Linked DNA regions of Homo sapiens: region 1 is reported to be linked to region 2. The links are microRNA targets in miRTarBase. Many come from high-throughput screens and were not tested one by one. Region 2 holds a microRNA gene; the other region holds the end of a gene's coding sequence.

Region 1 (5,379 bases), not on the chromosome of region 2:
CTGGCGGACCCCTGTCCCTCCATAGGCAGTGCAAAGCACGGCCGTTTTCTTTTCAAAGCCACCAGGGGAGTCTTTCTCTCTAGGGTGCCGAGTCTTATATAACCAGGATGACATGGGCAAGCCGTGGCTTCCTTCACCTTTGCCGCCATCTCTCAGTTGTAAGAAGGCACTTAGGGGAGAGGACCACACGAAGCCTGGGCCACCGGGAGGGTCACCCTGGGGACTGTTCAACACAGCTGATGCCAGTTCAGCGCCTCCTCAGGGCCCTCTCTCTAAGCACTGGCAGATATGGGGCAACACAAAGTCACTTTCACCTGCCATTTCCCAGCACCGCGGGTCCCTTGCTCATCCACCTTTGACATCTGCTGGCAGATACATGGCAAGGTTGGTGACCTCTTGAAATAAAAATCAGGAGTGGCCACTCCAGATAAATTTCTTCTGTAACTGCTATACCAATTCATTTCAAAACATTTAGGTAAAACTAAATCTGGATTTTGGACTTGGCCATGAGGATAGCTCCTCGCAGAGTTGTCCCTGTAATGATGGTGGTGGAAAGGTGGAGAAGGCCCCAGCCCAGCCCCTAGGGGACACTGCCATCTCCTAGCCCTGCAGGCCTGCTGGGCCTGGGAACTGGTGACATTCCTTGTACTGTGTGCCAGGGACAGCCGTGAACGCAAGTCTTCCAATCCTGGCCACAAGTACAGGTTAAGGACCCTCTGGGTGCTGGGCCCTAATCTTTGCTGACCTGTTGACCACTGTTAGCAGGTGCAGTCTCACCTGGCTGGAACCTGTGGACATGCATCACACTTTCTTGAAACGACAGTGGTGATGCCCCGAAGTTCTGGGGCGCTGGACATTTCTGTAAATCAACTTAGTGCAGTGGCCAGGGCAGGTTTCCCAGGGAGCCTGAGTGAGCTGCCTGACCTCCTTGTTAGATGATTTACAGGTGGGATCTGGTTGCAGCATCAGAATAGACTGTGAGGTGGAGTCGGGGGGCTCTGATGGGGACATTGATGGGTGCTGGGTGGTTGTATAGGGTTTGGGTGATCTGAGACTTGGGTGGTCAGGCTGCCCCCTCCACTGCCCCAGAAAACAGAAAGACAAGCATACTGGGTGCTGACAACATTGTTCTACGGGGACAGCATTCCCGCTGCTACCTACTGTCGGCAGGACTATAGAACCACTTCCCTAAAAAGAGTATTAGAGACATTGCCCAACTTCTGTTTTACAAATATCACCACACCAAATTGCTTCTTTAGTTGCTTTTGTGTTGTGTGTGTGTGTGTGTGTGTGCAGAGCTCATCTCGGGGGCGTGCTAATCCAAGAAGTGCAGGAGCTGCTGCAGGGGACTGTGCAACAGAATTGCTTCTTCAGAGCATCCTCTGCAGTCCAGTGACGCCCCGTGTGGCACGGCATTCCAGAAGGGTTTGCTGTTGAGGCTGGGGAAAGGGGCTCTCTTTCTCTGTCACATACTCACACACACACACACACACACACACACACACACACACACACACACACAGCTCCCAGGCACCCAGGAAGGGCAATGGTCTCTGCACACGCAGTGGGTGATGTGCCTGGAGCAGGCAATGCTCACAGCTAAGGAGCCCAGCAGAATTTTGTGTGGCTGGGAGCTTGGATTACAGCCTTCATATCTTCTCCAGGCAAGACCAGTGGCAGCCTCCTGATTTGGCCCAAGCATGCCCTGTCCTCAATCAACCAGCCAAGCAGGGAGCCTCGCTGCCAGTGCCCTGCCGCTCAGTATTTATTCGCTGCTATTTGGGGAGCAGTGGAGCCCAATTGCCTTTCCCAGTCACCCCTGGGTCGCCCTGGGTGGGCAGGCGGGGGAGTTCAGATCACTCCCACTCTCAGCCTTCACTGAGTCCCCACCCGCAGCTGCCAGCCATAGAGAAAATGTCTCTGCGGCAGCAGGTGCTCTTGGGCCCTGCGTGTTCCAGGTGTAGAGCCGCTGCTGAGGCTTCCAGGCTCAACATCAGCGGCGGCTTCTGACCCGTTCAGATCTTGTCCCGAGTGCACAGTGTACCACGTCTCGCCTCTACAGCAGCAGGCGCGTGAGCGTCCGTGCACGGGCCAGCCTCATGCCAGCTGTTTTCCTTTTCAGATTGGGGTTCAGTCGGCACCTTCTACATGACATGGTGGAGTGTGCATTACATAAAGCCCCCAGGTTACAGACAGGACCCCTGGGGCCAGGAGAGGGTAAGTACAGCGCTTACCAGGACTTGAGGCCACATCGCCCTTGCCCTGACACTTGTGAATTTGACCTGGTCATCCCACCTGCCAGCAGAGCATGAACTGGGCCTCCCCACAGGGAAGCCCAGAAGCCCCTGTGAGTCCATAAGGGCTGCGTGGCTCCTGACTTCAACCAGTCAGCCTCTGGTCCAGAAGGGAGGCCCGGGGCGGGGGCACGCTGCTCACCTGCCCAGTGGGCTTAACCTGTGGGCTCTAGCTTTCTCCTGGAAGTGCAGCAAAATGTTACAGTAATCGAGATGAGGCAGATTTATTAACTAGGCTTTCCTAGCACAATCTGAGGTCACCCGAGATGCGGTTTCAGATGGAGGTTTAGGACAGTGAGCCTGGGTGGCGAGCAGGACTCCTCCTGGCCATCCCGTGACACCCCGTGTTAGTATTTGCCCCCCTTTGCCCTGCTGCTTCTGGACTGCCTAAGAGCCAGGCTGCTGTCCCGGACTGAGACTCCAGGACAGGACCTGGCACAAAGCCCTGAATGAGGCTGACCTAACAGGAGAGATCAGACGGGCAAGGGGGCACACTTGGGCAGCAAAGGGAGACCCCACCCTTCCCTGGCTGCAGGGCTGAGTATTTGTGCTGTGAGTGGAGGAATGCCAGGCGGGCTCAGTCCTTTGGTCTATGTGTGTGGGGCCCTCCAGATGCCTGCTCTTTGTGGCAGGCTGTTACTGCAGGGCTGTGGATTTGTCCCGGCTCTATAGAAAAGGGACCCACAGGGTCCCCCCAGGCAGCTGCTCTACCCTTGGAATACAGCTCAGGCAGGCCGTAGACCAGCAGCTTCCCTGGGCTGTTCTTCCCCAGAACTGGCAGTGCGTTTGGTGCAGACGAGTGGCAGGTGCCACACGGGGCGATCACATGGCACGGGATTCCTGGCTTTGCCCCTTTAGTGGGTGCCTTGTGATCTGCGTCATGGTGAGGAGGACTTCAGGGACAGATGGCCAGGGATGTTCCCAGGTGGTGGAGGAGGCTCCACTGGCAGAGAAGCAACGTCAAGCTGAAGACATTGGGGTGCGATGGCTGGCCAGGACAGCTTGTCTCCTCGTCCGCACACGGAACGCTGGATTTCACTCTGTGACCCAGCCAGCGGTCTCATCTCACAGCCGCAGCTTTCAGCAGGAAGGAGCCCACTGGTGCCTGCCTGACCTACGAGGGCCCGCACCGTTTTGCCCTCCTAACATTTTGTATTTGAAGTGCTTGTCACAGTCCACAAAATAACCACTCAGAATCTGTTACTATTTTGTTTATATGTTGTATCAAGTGAATGTTAATAAGTCATCTAAGTGTATGCTTTAGTTATAAATCTTGGAAAAATAAAAACTTCCTTTTGGAGGAAAAGTGAACTTACTTTGGTATCAAAATCACACAACTCCAGGTTGGATTTTTTTGTGCTTTAATGTTCGCAGTCACACGAAAGTGGCATCTCCATCAGCACTGGGGCGGCCGCCTCCTCATCAGCCGACAGCTGCACGGTCCCCGCCTCTCATCCATTTGGTCTGTTTGCAAGTTACTAGATCATACAAAAATAACCGCTACAAATTCTCTGTATCTGGCATATAAAAACTGAGCAAAAAGTATCTCTTAAAGCAAAACATCTCAGAAAAAATACAACACAGGTTTAACTTCTGCAGTACTTTGTTCATATAAAACACTAGTAAAATAGGCTTCTTAAAAATTAAATAGTGAAATACCAACCAAATTATATACATTGTTACAGTACAAGTGAATGAGGCAAAATATCCAGTTCTTAGTTTCCCAGGTGGGTGGGGGTGGCCTTCAGTGCGTGGCACGGAGGGGGTGACAGGAAGGCCACGTTCCAATGTCACAGTCAGCGCAGAAAGAGGCTTGCAGCGGGACAAACAGATGGAAAGAACTGAGTCACACAGGGAAGACCAGGGGCTCCTTTGAGGAAGAGTGAGGTCATGTTTTTATTGCTTGCTAATCCGAGGTTTTCCCTGGCCCGATGCCCCTCTAGGTAGCCTGGATCCCAAATGCTGCAGCCCACGTAGCGCTAATCCATGTCACCAAGCAGCCACGGGGAAGCCACAGCTGCTCCAGAGAAGACAGAACTAGGCTTCAGAGCCCTCAATATCTGAGCTGGACCGATCCTGGTCTTTCAGGTCCATCAGGGTCCCACATGGTCCAACTGACACACACGTTTCCCCGCTGACGGCCACGTTCACCTGAGAGCCTGAGGGCGGGCAGTGTGGGCTCATGGCACTGGGATGGTATCACTGTGGCCTGGGGGGTGGCACTCAGACCCAGCCAACCCCCTCAGCGACCACAGTGCCTCGCCCGCTTCTCTGCCGCCACCAGGGCTGAGGGTCTACGTGCGGCGCCGCTTGGCAGCACTGGGACTGGAAGGGTTGCTGTTTGCGGTCAGGACTTTGTCGGTGACCCGGCTGCGCTTCCGCTTGTCTGCGCCTTCTTTGCACCCCAAGTCTGAGGAGTTCTTCTCTTTGTCTTTGCTGGATTTTTCTGATGCTTTCCCCAAACTCCCTGAAGATGAAAAAACTGAGAAACGAAAAATCACTTGGCTGAAAACAGAATATCCAGAATCTTATTTTTGTCTTCCTGTTCAGTTAAAAAAATCTGCATACTGACACGTGACCCTCTGAACCCAAAGCTTCCTCCTGAGCTGGGAGCCCCTTGCATTTGGGCCCACAGAGGGGCCTGGTCCTCCTGAGGACCTGCCTGCGGCGGGCACTGCAGGGACCGCCGCTCAGACCCTGGCCTACAACATGGAGCAGGCACTCAGCTCCTGGGGAGGGGGCACTGCAGGATCCATCCTGTGCCTAGATGACCTGCCTGGGGCCTCTGCACCGCAGGCTCTACGCCCACCTGACTGTGCCCTGCCTGAAGGCAGTCTTGGGGTGCTGAGCCCCAAAGGGCATCAGGGCAGGGTGAGCTCCACACTCACCATCGTCAGCCCCATTGTGGGGGTCCACGTCTTCCTTCATCTCCTCTTTCATCTCCTCTTCTATCATCACTTTTCCTGTGGAGGAGACAGCTGACGCTCACCGAAAACCCACGGTGGTGGCCGACGCTGGGGGATGGTCAGGCCAGGGACTGCTCCGACGCTTGCTGCCCACACAGGCCTCAGCTTCCGTCCAGCCA
Region 2 (5,379 bases):
ATAGGGATTCTAGAGGACTTAATAGTAAAAGAAGCAGTAGGAAGATCTCAGAGGAGAGGATGAGACTAGAAGGATTCAGTTGGTCAGTGCAACTTATGTCTCACGTTGTGTCTGAGGATGACAAGAGGTGATGCATTGTGGGTAAAGCTGACTATATGGTTATTAAAAGAAAAAAAAAAGTCCAAGAAGTCCTAGTAAATGGAAAAATTTAGGTCTCCCTGGATGAAGTCAGCCATAGCCTGGGTTGATTGTTCTGCTGAAGAGAGCTTAGTCAGGTGGAGAGTGTGGTAAAGGGATAGCCATTACCCCCAAGGCTTCAATACAAGTGGAAAATGCAACAGCTTTAATCCTAAGATTCTTCCTAGATTCACAATATGTGTGTGCCCTGGTCCCAACCCCTCCCTACTCCCCTCATTTGCCCCCAGGCTTCGTGAAAGTGATAGCAGAATCAGCCATGCTGATTCCTCAGCCCAGTGCACTGGATGGAAGTTAATGCCCAAAACTGATTTATCTTCCTTGAGGCTGGGAAAAGGGATGAGTTGGGAAAGCGAACAACTAGAGGTGTTTATGAAGGAGGAACATCTGGGATGCCCGTGGTGGTAACGTGGAGTGCTGCAAAGAGGACTATAGAGAAGGAAGGCAAAATGCTGTTTAGAATCCACAAACGTGGAATCAGTGCATCTCATTTGCTGGCTCTTACCATAAAATGAGCATCAGTATCCCTGCCCTGAGCTTGGGTAGCTTATCAGAGAAGATCGCTGACACTTTTGGAGCCCATCTGAATAGCTCCCTCTGAAGCCATCCAACTTGACCATGATCTGGACTTCCTACTAGACCAGTATTTTGCCTTTGCCTGATCTTTCAACTTCAGCTTCTGCATTTTCTTCTAATTAGCCCTTTCTTACCCCACCAGCACTGCCAAAATGGAGACTTCCTGTCCCAGTCTCAGACCTTGTGGAATTCACACCTCCCCTTTCCATCACCACCTCCCAACCCTGCCACAATATGGACTACCTGTTGTTACGTTGAGAAGATTAAGACTACACAGGCAGTTAGTTTAGGGAACACCTTCTACAGTTGGTGAAATCTATTTTTAAGATCATGAAATGTCATACTACTGCCATATATACTAATTTCCTCCTCCTCCTTTCTCTAAAACTGTCACTCAAGATAAAAGTCAGCTGGGCCGGGCAGGGTGGCTTACGCCTATAACCCCAGGATCTGGGGAGGCCAAGGCTGGCGGATCACCTGAGGTCAGGAGTTTGAGACCAGCCTGGCCAACATGGCAAAACCCCATCTCTACTAAAAATACAAAAATTAGTCAGGCATGGTGGTGCACACCTGTAGTCCCAGCTACTCGAGAGGCTGAGGCTGGAGAATCGCTTGAACCTGGGAGGTGGAGGTTGCAGTGAGCCAAGATCACGCCATTGCACTGTAGCCTGGGCGACAAGAGTGAAACTCCATCTCAAAAAAAAAAAAGGGCAACTGGTGAATGCTGGGAATATGAATATCAGGGCTTGTGCTTGTTATTTTGGGGAATGACAGAAGACAGACCCAGGCAGTGTTTTTTCCCTGCATTCATCCTTTTTTCCTTTTTCTTTATTTCCCATTTATTTTATTTAAGTGTGATTTAGTTTGTACAACATTTATAAGAGGAATGGAAAATAGACAAGAAGTGATGATAGCAAGTATTAGGTTGGTGCAAAAGTAATTGCGGTTTTTGTCATTAATGAAACGTAAAGTAATTAAAGTAATGACAAAAACCGCGATTACTTTTGCACCAACCTAATAGCTTTGGAAATGGAACAACGAAGGATCACAAGTTTGGCTTCAAGTTTTCTGTGGTACACTTGCCACAAAAAGCAGGGGGCAGAGGAAACTTTTGGAGGCGATGGATATGTTTATCATTTTGATTGTGATGATATCATGGGTGTATATGTATACCCAAGCTCATCAAATTGTACACATGAAATACATGTGGGGTTTTTCTGTCTATCAATTTATACTTTGATAAAGCTATTAAAAAGAAAAAGGCAGAAATGAGCTCAAATTTTAAACTGTCTTTATTCTTTCATTGAACAAGCATTTATGAAGGGCCCGCCATGTGCCAGCTCTGTGCGAGATATTGATGTGACTCTGGGAAGGCAAGCATTGTCCCCAACCCTGCACATCTATCAGGGAAAGCAGAAGCAATTGCCATCACGTGCTAGGACAGGGAAGTTTGGCACCATGGAAACGTGTAGCAGGGGCAATCCTGGTGTGGGGGTGGGTCAGGATTGTAATTCCCAAATTGGAGACTGACTCACACAGCTATCAGTGACAGGCAGAACAACCTCCACAGACTTCAGCCAGAGGGGGGAATTAGCCATTTTCTTTTATATCACCGTTTTATTCACACATCAGCATCCCCTCATTCCCATCCACTTATTCCTGAAAGCAGGCCCTTTTTGAGGCTCCAAACATAGTAATTAAACAAAGGGGATTCTAGAAGGTGGACAAAGCATTAGAGACAGCTTCATTGTATATAAATGCCAAATTTTCTGCATCAGTAAGGTTGCAGCTGTGACAAGAATTAGGCTGCTTTCTAGGTCATATATTTTCTAAAGCACTAGGCAAAAAAAATATTAACACATGAGGGGAAAAGAAATAAATAGACTCAATTGTTTTAAAACCTTATGAGTAGACCATTTTTTAATAATACAATGAATACTGCTTATTGAATAAACAAAGAAATTATTTGTTAATATAAAATAGAGCCACATTCTCTGGTTAAATCGTGAATGTGTAAAAAATTAAGTTCTCAATTTAATCTGTTCTGCACAAGATTCTGAATGAAAGATTAATTGGATATAATGACACTGATATTATTTTCTGTATAATAATAATTCTATACATGTTTGGCAATTTATAGTTGTAATTCTATGAATCTGAATTTTTAAAAGTTAACTACAAATAAACAGTCTCTGTAAATGAGATATATGGGGTAGGAGACTGCTTACATGGGTATGGCTAAAGCATAAATTTGAAATAATATCTGATTCATATCAGAATTTATCAGCCTGGGCTGGATAATGTTTAGTCACAGATGAGACACAGATAAGAAAATTAACACCAGATTGGTAATTAAAAGTGCTTCCTGGGTATGAATGACACCTCTGAATGCAGCATGAAATAATTCCTTTTGTATTCTGCTCCACGTTTTCTTTCATCTTGTGTTTGGACATTAGCCACAGAGGGATTGATGTTTACCGCAAAGAGCCTGGAGTCAGAAGATCTATATTCTGGTCTCAATGCTGCTAGAAGTTAACTGTTAGATTTTTAGAAAAAATAAGTTCTAATCCTCTGTTCAGCTTGCACATCTGCAAAATGAAGATACTTTTTAAAGCAAAATTGAGAAAGAAATAGAACAAAATTATGCATGCAAAAATGCGGTGAAAATTTTTAGTTAATGCAAATATAAAATATCCAAATAGTCTATGCACAAATATATTTATATATCATAACAATGGAAACTAAATTATAATTGAAGGGATATCAAAAATAGAATTATAGTATTGAAACAAATAAAAGCCAACAAGATTGAATATGTGTGTTTGTGCACGTATGTTTTAAGTGGTGAGATACTTCTAGATATTATGTTGTTAACATATTACCAAATTGTTTAACTCATATATGCGTATAGTTTTTGGTAATATGAAACTGTGCATAGAAGGAGATGATCAGTAATTTATTTGGCTGTCTAGTACATGTTGAGTCACTTCTCCATATAAAAAATTAATAAAGAAGGCTAATAAATGGGCTCCTCACGTGAGGGCTAAAGACAAAGACAGATGCAGACGCTTTGTTCCTGAAACCTCTAGCTTGGAATATGTTATAGTCCTGAGACAAAGCCATTCACAATTAATTCCAATGGTAAATCTCAGTTGAGCCTCGGGGGTGTGAAGGGGGACTGATACAGCATAGTCGGTTTGCCATAAATATGCCTAAATCTATAAAAGATTCATCACATTAAAAGAGGTTTTTTCTGAACACTATGCTCATTTATCAGATTATTTGGAGATTATTTAGTATGATAAAATACAGAAAATACCTCACTACATTTGTAAAATCTTTTCAGAAATCAATTTCTAAGTTTTTAACAAAAATGTCATGATAAGACTTCTAGTACTATAAGATGTCATAGACCTTCTGGTATAGGCACAGCAGTCTGAACAAACACCGAAATAAGAGGGGCACCTTAAAATCTCTAGTCAAACGGACTGGTAGAAACCTTCTATGCAATCTCAGTCTACTAAGAAGTAGGTTTCTACCTAATGTAAAAAAACCAATACTGAAAATCAAGGAAAAGAAAGAAATAGGAACAAAACAAACAAACAATAAGACAAACAAACAAAACAAACAGTAACAAGATAAATCTCCAAAAACATACTTGAATGAAGTGGAGTTTTGTGATTTACCTGACAGAAAATTCTAAATAATGGCCATAAGGTTACTCATAGATGTCAAGACAGCAATCCAAGAACAAGCTGAGAACTTCAACAAAGATACAGTATAAAAAAGTATCACATGGAAATCATAGATCTGAAGAATGCTATAACTGAATTAAAAAATTCAATAGCGGGGTTCAATAACAAACTAGAACAATCAGGGGGAAAAATTGTGAACCTGAAGACAGATCACTGGAAATCATTCAGTCTGAGAAGCAAAAACAAAAAAGAATAAAAAGAGGTAATTATAGATGAAGAGACCAATGGGACACCATTAAGCAGAACAAATTATGCATTATTGGTGTGCCACAGGGAAAAGAAACAGAGAAAGGGATATAAAACATAATCAAGGAAATGACGGCAGAACACTTCCGAAGTCTCAGGAAGACATTAGAAAGCCAGATCCCGGAAACCCATAAGACATAAAAGATGACAAATCCAAAGAGACACCATGATACATCATAGTTAAATTGTCAAAAATTAAAGATTAAATGAAAGAAATCAAGGAGCTAAATGGAAAAACATACCGAGTTTAAGACTCAACATAGTAAAGATGTCAGTTCTGGCCAAATTCTCTATATGCTTAATGCAATTTCTATCAAAATCCCAGCAAAGTTTTCGTTGCGAAAGACAAGCTTACTCTAGAATTTATATGAAAAGTTTGAGACCCTACGATAGCTAAAGTAATCTTGACAAACAAGAATAAAATATAGGAATTACTCTGCTGATTATTAACATGTAACTGTATGGCTAGAGTAATCGAGACAATCAAGACACCATAGTATTGGCAAAGGGGCAGACACATAGATCAGTGGAAAAGAAAAAAAAAATCCAGGATCCAGACTCATACAGATATGCTCACCTAATTTTTGACATAGATCCAAAGCAGTTC

The links. The annotated mature microRNA hsa-miR-548h-3p reads CAAAAACCGCAAUUACUUUUGCA and lies in region 2 at 1,701-1,723, opposite strand. An mRNA with a match to its seed (bases 2 to 7 or 8) in the 3' UTR can be bound and repressed. Matches are read on the target gene's strand: a 7mer-m8 pairs with bases 2 to 8, a 7mer-A1 pairs with bases 2 to 7 and ends in A, and an 8mer does both.
Region 1: the mRNA of MRGBP is a reported target of hsa-miR-548h-3p. Seed matches in the 3' UTR shown: 7mer-A1 at 3,820-3,826 and 7mer-A1 at 3,577-3,583.

What each region holds. Positions count from the first base shown.
Region 1 is chr20:62,798,853-62,804,231 of GRCh38, reverse strand. MRGBP (MRG domain binding protein) reads right to left here. Exons shown (of 5, transcript NM_018270.6): 4 at 5,183-5,257; 5 at 2,503-4,776. The coding sequence ends at 4,589. OGFR-AS1 (OGFR antisense RNA 1) reads left to right here. Exons shown (of 3, transcript NR_102430.1): 2 at 2,123-2,217; 3 at 3,153-3,605. Among named protein-coding and RNA genes, the nearest start is that of OGFR, 3.3 kb to the left of the region's middle.
Region 2 is chr8:27,047,171-27,052,549 of GRCh38, forward strand. It overlaps MIR548H4 (microRNA 548h-4), which reads right to left and starts at 1,793; the gene lies at 1,683-1,793.